3 separate regions of the Homo sapiens genome follow, and all the other regions are linked to region 2. Evidence: fine-mapped expression QTL. A gene starts in region 2. Each other region holds a variant in brackets. All regions are shown on one strand. Distances are from middle to middle.

Region 1 (2,759 bases), 54 kb after region 2:
GGATGGCTTGAGCCTGGGAGGTTGAAGCTGCAGTGAGCTGTGATCGTGCCACTGTTGCCTGGGCAACAGAGTGAGACGCTGTCTCAAGAAAACCCAAAATCCAAAACCAAAAAACAAAAACCACTGGAAATGCATATACGTTTGACTCATCAATTTCACTTGAAGAAATTCATCTTACTGATACACTTGCACATATATATCTGTAAGGATATTTATTGCAGCAAAAGCTAGAGAGCAACTTAAATGTTCAGGAACCGAATTCTAGTTAAGTACAAATGCAATGTGGTCCATTTGATGCGTGTTGAGTGGGGATAGTCTTCCCTGTGTGTTATCGGGTGAAAAGACCCAGGTGCAGAGACGTTATGCTTCGTGGCCCCTCCTAGACCCACTCAGTGAGGGGACAGATGCCTGGGGTATGGGCGTGGAAAGAATACCCACTCTTCATGATATGCCTTTTTGTAGTCCTTGAATATTAAACCATGTACATGTATTATCTATTTCAAAAATGAGTATTTAAAAATGTGTTGCTGAAACCTATTGAATTCCCCTAATAGCCCTCCCCCAATGCCACATCCAATCAGTCTTCAAACCCTATTGATTCTACCATCTAAATTTTTCTCAAATGTGTTCCCACCTTCTCTCCATCCTCTTTCCCATCTCTGCCTCCTACTCTGCTGCAAGGCCCAATTTAAAGATTTCCTCATCTGTAAAGTCTCCCTGACCTCCTCCCACCAGTATGAGTTCTGTTCTAGACACATTAGGTTTGAGGTATGTTGGGTTCACATCTAAATCTGAAGCTTAGGTGAGAGATTTAGGCCAAGAGCTAGATGTGGGAGTCATTAGGTACATTTTGTGACTGCATTCTTGAGCGCTTGAGTTAATGCGTGGCTACCAGAAATGACAGGATTTTTGTCTGGGACTGCAGAGTGGAAGCTGTTGTTTCTGGGACAGAGTCTCATTGTTAGGTGTAGTTGCTCCCAGACCTTCAATTTGATATTGGTCTCTCAAACAGTTGCAGGAGCTATAAAACACACCAAGTTATATCTAGCAGGATTTCCTGTTCTTGCCCAGGGG[G/C]CCACACTACATGTGATTCCCCTAAAATTAAAGGATATTATCCTGGAAGCCCCACCTATGCCTGGCACCGTGCAGGACTTGACAGAGAGGAAGCTCATTAGAAGAAGGTGGGTTTCCCTCCATTGTCTCCTGAGATGTTCCCAAGAGCTTTCATTTGAAAAGTGTCCACTCATGACGCAACTGCTGTGTGATCCCCACTAAGGTCAGCTTGGGCTGTGTGGGCAGCAGCTTTGAGGGAAAGCTCAGATGATCGTCTGACCTGGTGCCTTCACTCTGTGTGGCTCTGATGTCTGGATGTAGGAGAAAGCTTGGCACTGCCCGGGGATTGACTGAGGGCCTGAGAGGGTAGTGACTTTTAAACATTGGTGTTTACAAGTCAAGGCGGAGCCATTCTAGGACATGAATTTTGAATGTAAAATCCTCAAATTTGTCCTGGATGCCTACCATTGCTTCATGTGATGGCCATACTTTCTGCCCTGGGAATGAGTAGAAGCCCTGAGATCTGACACATCAGACTGAGGACTGGCATGGGAATGGCTGCTGCTGTGGGAGTGCTGAGAAGTCACCTGTCTTGGGCCATTTGCTCATTTGGTTTCCTCCTTCCTTCTCCTCTGGCCTAATTAACATCTCATCCTCCCGTTCTGAGCTCCTCACCTCCCCAGAAAAGCTGATAGGCCCAAAGTCTTCTGTTTCACATGCCCCCTGTAGCATGAAGTATACTGGTGGCCATTCAAAACATTAAACCAATGAATTTTTATTTCTCCCCAGATCATGTAGTCCTGTGGCTCCCACCTACTGATTTAATAACACTCAGATGGTGGGTAGGACACAAATGCCATTGCTTGGCTTTGAGTTTTGAGACTGACTAGGATTTCTAGTGAGGCAAGAGTCTAGCAGGCCAGGCTCCATTGTGCTAGGACAGGGAGGTAGAAATTTCACACCTCCCATTTTGTGTGGAGCTTGGAGGTCTGAGGACACAGGGCATGATACGAAGAAGGGGAAATAGGAACAGAGGGTGCAGACATGGGCAGATTCTGGCAGATTGCCCTGTATGACCCCAGTCCTTCTCCCCTTTCTTCCCCAGTTGGGAGAGAACCCCAGGCGGGTGGTAGAAACTCATGGATGGGAATTTTGTTAAGTGTGGTGGAGTAACATTCATTTCCCCAAATTCCACTCAATGAACAGAGAAGGAACATACAAGGACAAAGAGAATAAAAAAGGGAATGACAGCCAAGGAGAGATGTCAGCAAGATTTTGGGAGACAGAAAGTGGCTGAACTTTGCAGAGTGAGGGAAGGTGAGACCTACAAACCTGGGTGGGCCAGTGGGGAGCAAGCCATGGGGCCCCAGACCCCAGAGAGGCTCAGAACTGGAGGGAAGTGAGGACGCTGGCCCAGGTGGGCTGTGGGCTGGTTAAGTCCCTGAGCCTTGTCCCACCCTACAGGAGACCTGCTGGGGTGGAAGGTGAATAAGTGAGACTGTGAAAGGTGAGCTCCAGCTGCTTTTCTTGCTGGGCTTCTAGAATGTTCCATTCCTCCATATGCAGACTGGAAAATCCCCCTTCCTACGCTGAGAAAACTGATCAACTCAGAGGACAGAGCTGTGGATGCTGCCCTCTGGGGCTCCCCTGGGAGGTTGTGGGGCAGGATGTGATTGTCCCATCCATGGCACCTCAGTGCCCAGGCC
Region 2 (2,759 bases):
ATTAATTCTGGCTGTAATCAGAATTTCTTCAGTAAAAAAGCACAGAAAGTTCTTCTCCCGAATAAGGGTCTTGTTAAATAAAGTGGGTCTTTCTAAGCCAGGAGAAGTTCAGCTCAGCTCCTGGGAAGGTAGCAGTACCTACGGCTCAGAGGAGTGGAGGGCCCATCCATGTAGGAGCCTGGGCCTGTGCCCCAACCTCAGACCAGCATGTGCCCCCAGGGGTGGTGGGTGGGCCCTGGAGGGCAGAGAGGTGCCTCTAGCTGGCTCTCGGAAGTCCTGACCAGTGACAATTCTTAAGACACCATTAAGTGTCCACTGGAGCCAGGGCCTGTGCTAGGGGCTGAGGGTGACAGAGGTGACCCATCTGGCCAAGTGACCTGTGGCTGGAGAAACTGAGGCCCTCCTTCGCCTCAGGGACCCTGACACTCTTCAAGGCCAGGTCTTTGGTGGTGCCAGATACTCTCCTGTCCCTTGGTTTGCTTGTGGCTTGGTTCTTGGTGTGTGATACGTCTCTGTGTGTGTAGTTGCCACACCCTCCAGTCTCTCTCATACACACTGTTTCCCAAGCATACACTCACAAACACACCTTGTCTCAGACTCAAACACACACATGCCACACACACACCATACATCACACACTCCATGCACACACATGCATCTACACACACCCCACATGCACATCACACACACGTACTCCATGAACAACACACACACGCACACACACAGACGCACACACACACACCCCCCAACCTCTTTTATGCACTTTCCTGACCTTTGGAGACCTGGCTCCTAGATGTATCTCTGCTCAAAGTTCCCCTCCCTGCCTGGGGGCAGCTCTGGACTCTGGTCTACTTTCGGCCAGGGCACACCTAGCCCACTCCCAGGTCCACCTTCCTCCAGTCTACCCCCAGACTCCTCTAGGCCATCATCAGCCAGCGCTTCATCCTCACCTCAGCTCCCTCCCCGGTCTACCCCCACCCTCTGCCCCTGAGCCTGGACGGAAGTTCCCCAAGTCTCTCCAGCCTGCATCCCAGCCCACCGTCAGCCGGCCCCCACGCTCACCCCAGCTCACCTCCCAGTCTGCCCCTACAATCTGCTCCCAAAAAGCTCCTTTGCAGCTCAGCACCCCAGCCCCGCCCTCAGAGCCCATCAGCCGGCACCCCACCTTACCCCAGCTTGTCCCCAGCTCGAAACCCTGCCCTCGCCCCCCTCTCACCCCGCTGAGACTCCAGCCGCCCCCATCCCTCCCACCCGGCGCGCCTGCAGGGACTGCACCCCACATCTGGAGGCAACGGGGCACGGCCGCAGGCGTGGTCTGGGGGTGCGGCCTGAGGGCGGACCCCCTGAGGCCCCGCCCCACCCCAACCCCAACCGGGCGTCCCCCAGCCGCGCCCCCAGCGGGACCGAGCGTGACCCAGCTGCGGCCGGCCAGCCATGGAGACTGGAGCGCTGCGGCGCCCGCAACTTCTCCCGTTGCTGCTGCTGCTCTGCGGTAAGGGGGCGACGGCCCGCACCGGGGGCGCCCCCACTCCTCGGGGTTCACCGGACCCGGGTGGACCCGCGCCTTCCCGCACCTGCGCCGCGGTCCTTCCCTTGCCCCGGAGCTCGGGAGGGGCGCACAGTGACCCTGGCGGGATTCCCAGGCTCTGCGGGAGGGTTCCACCCGGGAGAAGCTGAAGGCGAAGGACTCTGGCGGGCAAGGGAGGCACAGGGCCCCCTCCGGGGTCTTCTGACGGCAGGGTCCGGCAGCCCCCGGTCCTTCTAGTTGTGATGTCCCCCCACGCCCCGGTTCTGGGGTCGCCTCAGGGTGGGCGAGAAGAGGTGGACCAGGTCTGGCTCTTTACCCCTTATCCCCCAGGGTGGGCTGTCTGTAAGGTAGTGAGCTCTCTGTCCTGGCATTGAGTGCCTGCCCACCACTCACAGGGGCGTGGGCGGGTGGACTCCGGACTGGGTAGCTGGTCCTCCCAGGGCCCCTCAGTGTGTGGACGCCTGTGTGTGTCCTGGAACTGGCTGAGAGGGGAAGCGGGGCGACTCTCTGAGCCATCCTCTCCTAATGCCTTCTTCGGCAAGAAATCAGGACTCTAGGAAGAACCATTGCTCACAAAATGGAAATAGATTAAACTAAAAGCTTGTTTTGAAGTACCTTGCTAAAGAAATTATCCAAGAAAAAGTAAGAGAGAGAGAGAGAGAGAGAATGTGTGTAAAGGCTGTTGGGGAAGAGTGCTTGCTGAGGGCTGGGGTCCACTGAGTGGTGACTGAGCCTGGCCAGTTCTGGGGGGGACATTGGTGATGGAGGGCCCTGGCCTGGTGGTCCCCAGTTTCCCTGGCTGTAAGATGCAGAGTTGGGCCTGTTTTGATGATTTGGGATTTGGTACGGGAGGTGGGAAAAGGGTGGACCAAACTCAGTGGTCATTTTCCTTCCATTGAAGAGGTCTTGGTGTGCAGAACTTGTGTGGCTTCATTTGGTGTTCCAGGGCTGGAGCCTAGGATGTGGTGGATTTTGTGTTGAAGTGCAAAGGTGGATGGCAGCTTCTGAAATCAGGAGCATGCTGATTTGGGATTTCAGCAAACTTCCAGTGAGCGCCCCTTAGGTGGAGATCTTGGTCGCTATAGTGGAAGGAAGGTCCTCTCAATTCATTCTGGGAGAAGCTGAGGCTTTCCTGATCATCTCCAGTATCAAATTGAGAAGGACCACAGGCTTCCGCCTGCACAGAATCCCCCCTTAATAATCCTGTCTCTCGTGGACCCAGTTCCTGAGG
Region 3 (2,759 bases), 58 kb after region 2:
AGTATTTCAAGAGGAAAGAGCAAGCAGGAGGAAAAAATGGAGGGAGGGTAGAAGTGAGGCAAATGGTTATTTCTTGTGAGGCTCCCATTAGTGCTCAGTAAATCCACATTTCACACATGAAAGGAGGGAGTAGAGGAAAAAGTCAATTATGCCTTCCTCTCAGGGTAGGTAGAGGGATGATTTCTCGTCTTTCTTCGCACCTGTGAAGATAAGCTGGTAACTGATATTGTCAGGGTGAGATTCAACAGAATTCAGCTTTAGGGCTAATTTACAGGAAAGGGGCATATATCCCGAAAGACTGAGGGGTTCACGAGGAATTTACTTGTGAGCAATTTGTGAGGGAGGCCACCTGGGGAGATATGTGGCCTTCCATCTGGTGGGAACCTGGCTTATGGATGAGGCTATGACACAGGGTTGTGAAATTACAGCGATCTGTTTGGGAACAAAAGGAAGACTGTATCGTGTGACTCAGATCCCAAGCTTAACTCTCCTTTTGGCATAGTGAGTTTGGGGTCCTGAGATTCGATTTTTTTTCTCGGTTTTGTAATTGTACCTCTCCATTTTCAGTCTTGAATTCGTATGACATCCACCTCTGTAAGTGGTGTCATGTATAGAGTCAGGCTTTGCTTGTCTCAGGAGTGATTTCCCCAGTGCCACCTCTGGAGCTGTCCTCTCTCCTCTGCTCACGGTGTCTCTGTCTTACTCCAAGCTCCCCATCCACCTGGGTCTTCTCCTTGTCTGTCCTGAACCCCGGAGAAGCTGCTGTCACTAAAGGGTTGAAGCGGTTGAGTGCCTGGAGGAGTAAGTCCTCCCTGCTCTTCCTTTTCAAAAGTGTGGTGAGCTCTCTGCAGATCTTTCTTGCCCCATATCAACTACAGAAAAAGATTGTTCAAATTCTTCACAAATCCCTGCTGGAATTTTGCGAAGGTTGGTATGAATTTGTGGTTTATACAATTGCAGGTTTACATGTGCTCGTGTGATGGTTTGATGGGGTCTTATCTTCTGTAGTGGACTGAGCCCAGGAGGGCAGGGGATGTGTCTGCTTCCTACATCCTTGGCTCCTCAGCATTCACGCAGCATGTGGGTTGCAAAAGTAGCTCAACAACGATTTGTCTCTGAAAGCTGCTGAACTGAGTGTGAAATGATATGTCTGTGACAGTACTCAGCAAACCAGGAGGTGGCTCAGTGAGCGGTCCAAACCACCTGCTTCAGCACCAACTTGGGTTCACTTCTGTTTCTCTGGCTTCCTGGGAGGTGGGGGCTGGGCTCCCTCATCCACATCAGGAGCCTTTGGGAGGGTGAAC[A/G]TGGTGATGCCAGCACACAGGGAGCACTGTGTGTGTCGCTCCCAGTGCTATTGCTGAAGCCTGCCTGGGAGTAGGGGATGCTAATTCCACTTAGAAAACCATCTCCTTGATAGCTGATGCACATCTGCTGGCAGGGCCACCCCAGGCGCACTCCACGTGCTTTGCCATCTGTGTTAGCTCAGGCTGCCTTCTCCGTGTGTTTTCACATGGGCGGGGAGGGAAGAGGGAGAGAGAGAAAGAAGGGGAGGGAGGGAGAGAGAGAAGGGGGTGGAGAGAGAGAGAGAGAGTGCGCGATCTTCCTCTTTCTCTTCTGATAAGGGCACTTATTCTATCAGATTAGCACTCTGCCCTTATGACCTCGTAATTTAACCTTACTTAGCTCCTGAAAGCTCTATCTCCAATACAATCACACTAGGGGTTAGGGCTTCAATGCCAGAATTTTGGGGGACATTCTTCAGTCCACAGCACTATCCTACAGCACAGGACACGGGAATGGAAATGTGTCCCTGTCAGTTTTGCCAAGGGAGGTGAGGGACTGGATGCACAGCAGAGGGTCAGAGCCAGTGGTGCTCCTCGCTCTCTCACACTCACGGAGAGCCTGATGAGCTCCTCCTGCTGTTTGAGGACGCTGTGCTCAGGGAGGACCTGGGGAGCATCCTCACTTGCTTCAGGCACTGCCTGGCCAGAGGAGAGCAAGGCAGTGCCTGTCCCACACCCTCCACCTGCATGCCTGCTGGCTGCAGCCTGGAGAAGCTGGCGGCTCCTGGAAGGAAGAAGGAAGCTGAGCGCCAGCCTTCTCGCTGCAGGTGGTCCCCACACAGGGCCACTCAGGGCGTTTTGGTTATTTTGATGGACCGGCCATTTTCATGACTATGGACTGTTTAGGACCAGTGTGACTTTTGTTATCTGAGAGTGACCGGAAAAGTGAGGACCTGCCTCAGTGGGCCTCTGAGGGTGAGGCAGGGATCCCACTGCAGGGGATGCAGGGCAGTGGGGCAGAGAGAGGCTGAGTTTCCATCGTGCCCACACACCCACCACCCCAAATGACTGCATCCTTGGCTCCTCGGTGGGAAGTGCTTGGTGCCAGGGAGCCGGGCACTGAGGGCTCTTTCCTGGCAGCTTTAAAAGGGTCTGAGCCACAGAGTTCCCGGGAGCCAAAAAGTCTGGTCATTCCATCGTGTGTGAGCACGATGGAAACTCAGCTTCTCTCTGCCCCTCCAGCATCTGGCCAGCATCTCACAGCCCTTGGAGGGCTCAGCACACTCCTTCACACCTGGCTCATGATGAGCAACACCTGGGAGCCTCTAAGCTACGCCAGCAAGCGCTTCCAGGCTCAGAGAGGGGATCTGGGCTCACGCCCGAACCCCAGGAAGGAGTGATCAAGTGCCTTTCAGTGAGGGTTCCCTGTGGAGGGAGCAAAGGAGGAGCTGTTGGCATCCTAGAAAACCACAGCAG

Which allele goes with the higher level. Positions count from the first base shown, and alleles are read on the strand shown. Sizes are in standard deviations (SD) of each study's normalised expression. Not every link is listed here.
In carriers of allele C in region 1, the expression in nucleus accumbens of the gene that starts at base 1,397 in region 2 tends to be higher than with G alone (small effect, 0.25 SD a copy in GTEx).

The links.
Region 1: its variant is fine-mapped to the expression of RAMP3 in nucleus accumbens (GTEx, PIP above 0.99). The same link has a PIP of 0.9 or more in lung.
Region 3: its variant is fine-mapped to the expression of RAMP3 in whole blood (INTERVAL, PIP above 0.99).

What each region holds. Positions count from the first base shown.
Region 1 is chr7:45,210,054-45,212,812 of GRCh38, forward strand. No RefSeq gene overlaps it. Among named protein-coding and RNA genes, the nearest start is that of RAMP3, 54 kb to the left of the region's middle. The variant G/C (reference allele first, on the strand shown) is at 1,075.
Region 2 is chr7:45,156,395-45,159,153 of GRCh38, forward strand. RAMP3 (receptor activity modifying protein 3) reads left to right here and starts at 1,397. Exons shown (of 3, transcript NM_005856.3): 1 at 1,397-1,492. The coding sequence starts at 1,435.
Region 3 is chr7:45,214,462-45,217,220 of GRCh38, forward strand. No RefSeq gene overlaps it. Among named protein-coding and RNA genes, the nearest start is that of RAMP3, 58 kb to the left of the region's middle. The variant A/G (reference allele first, on the strand shown) is at 1,305.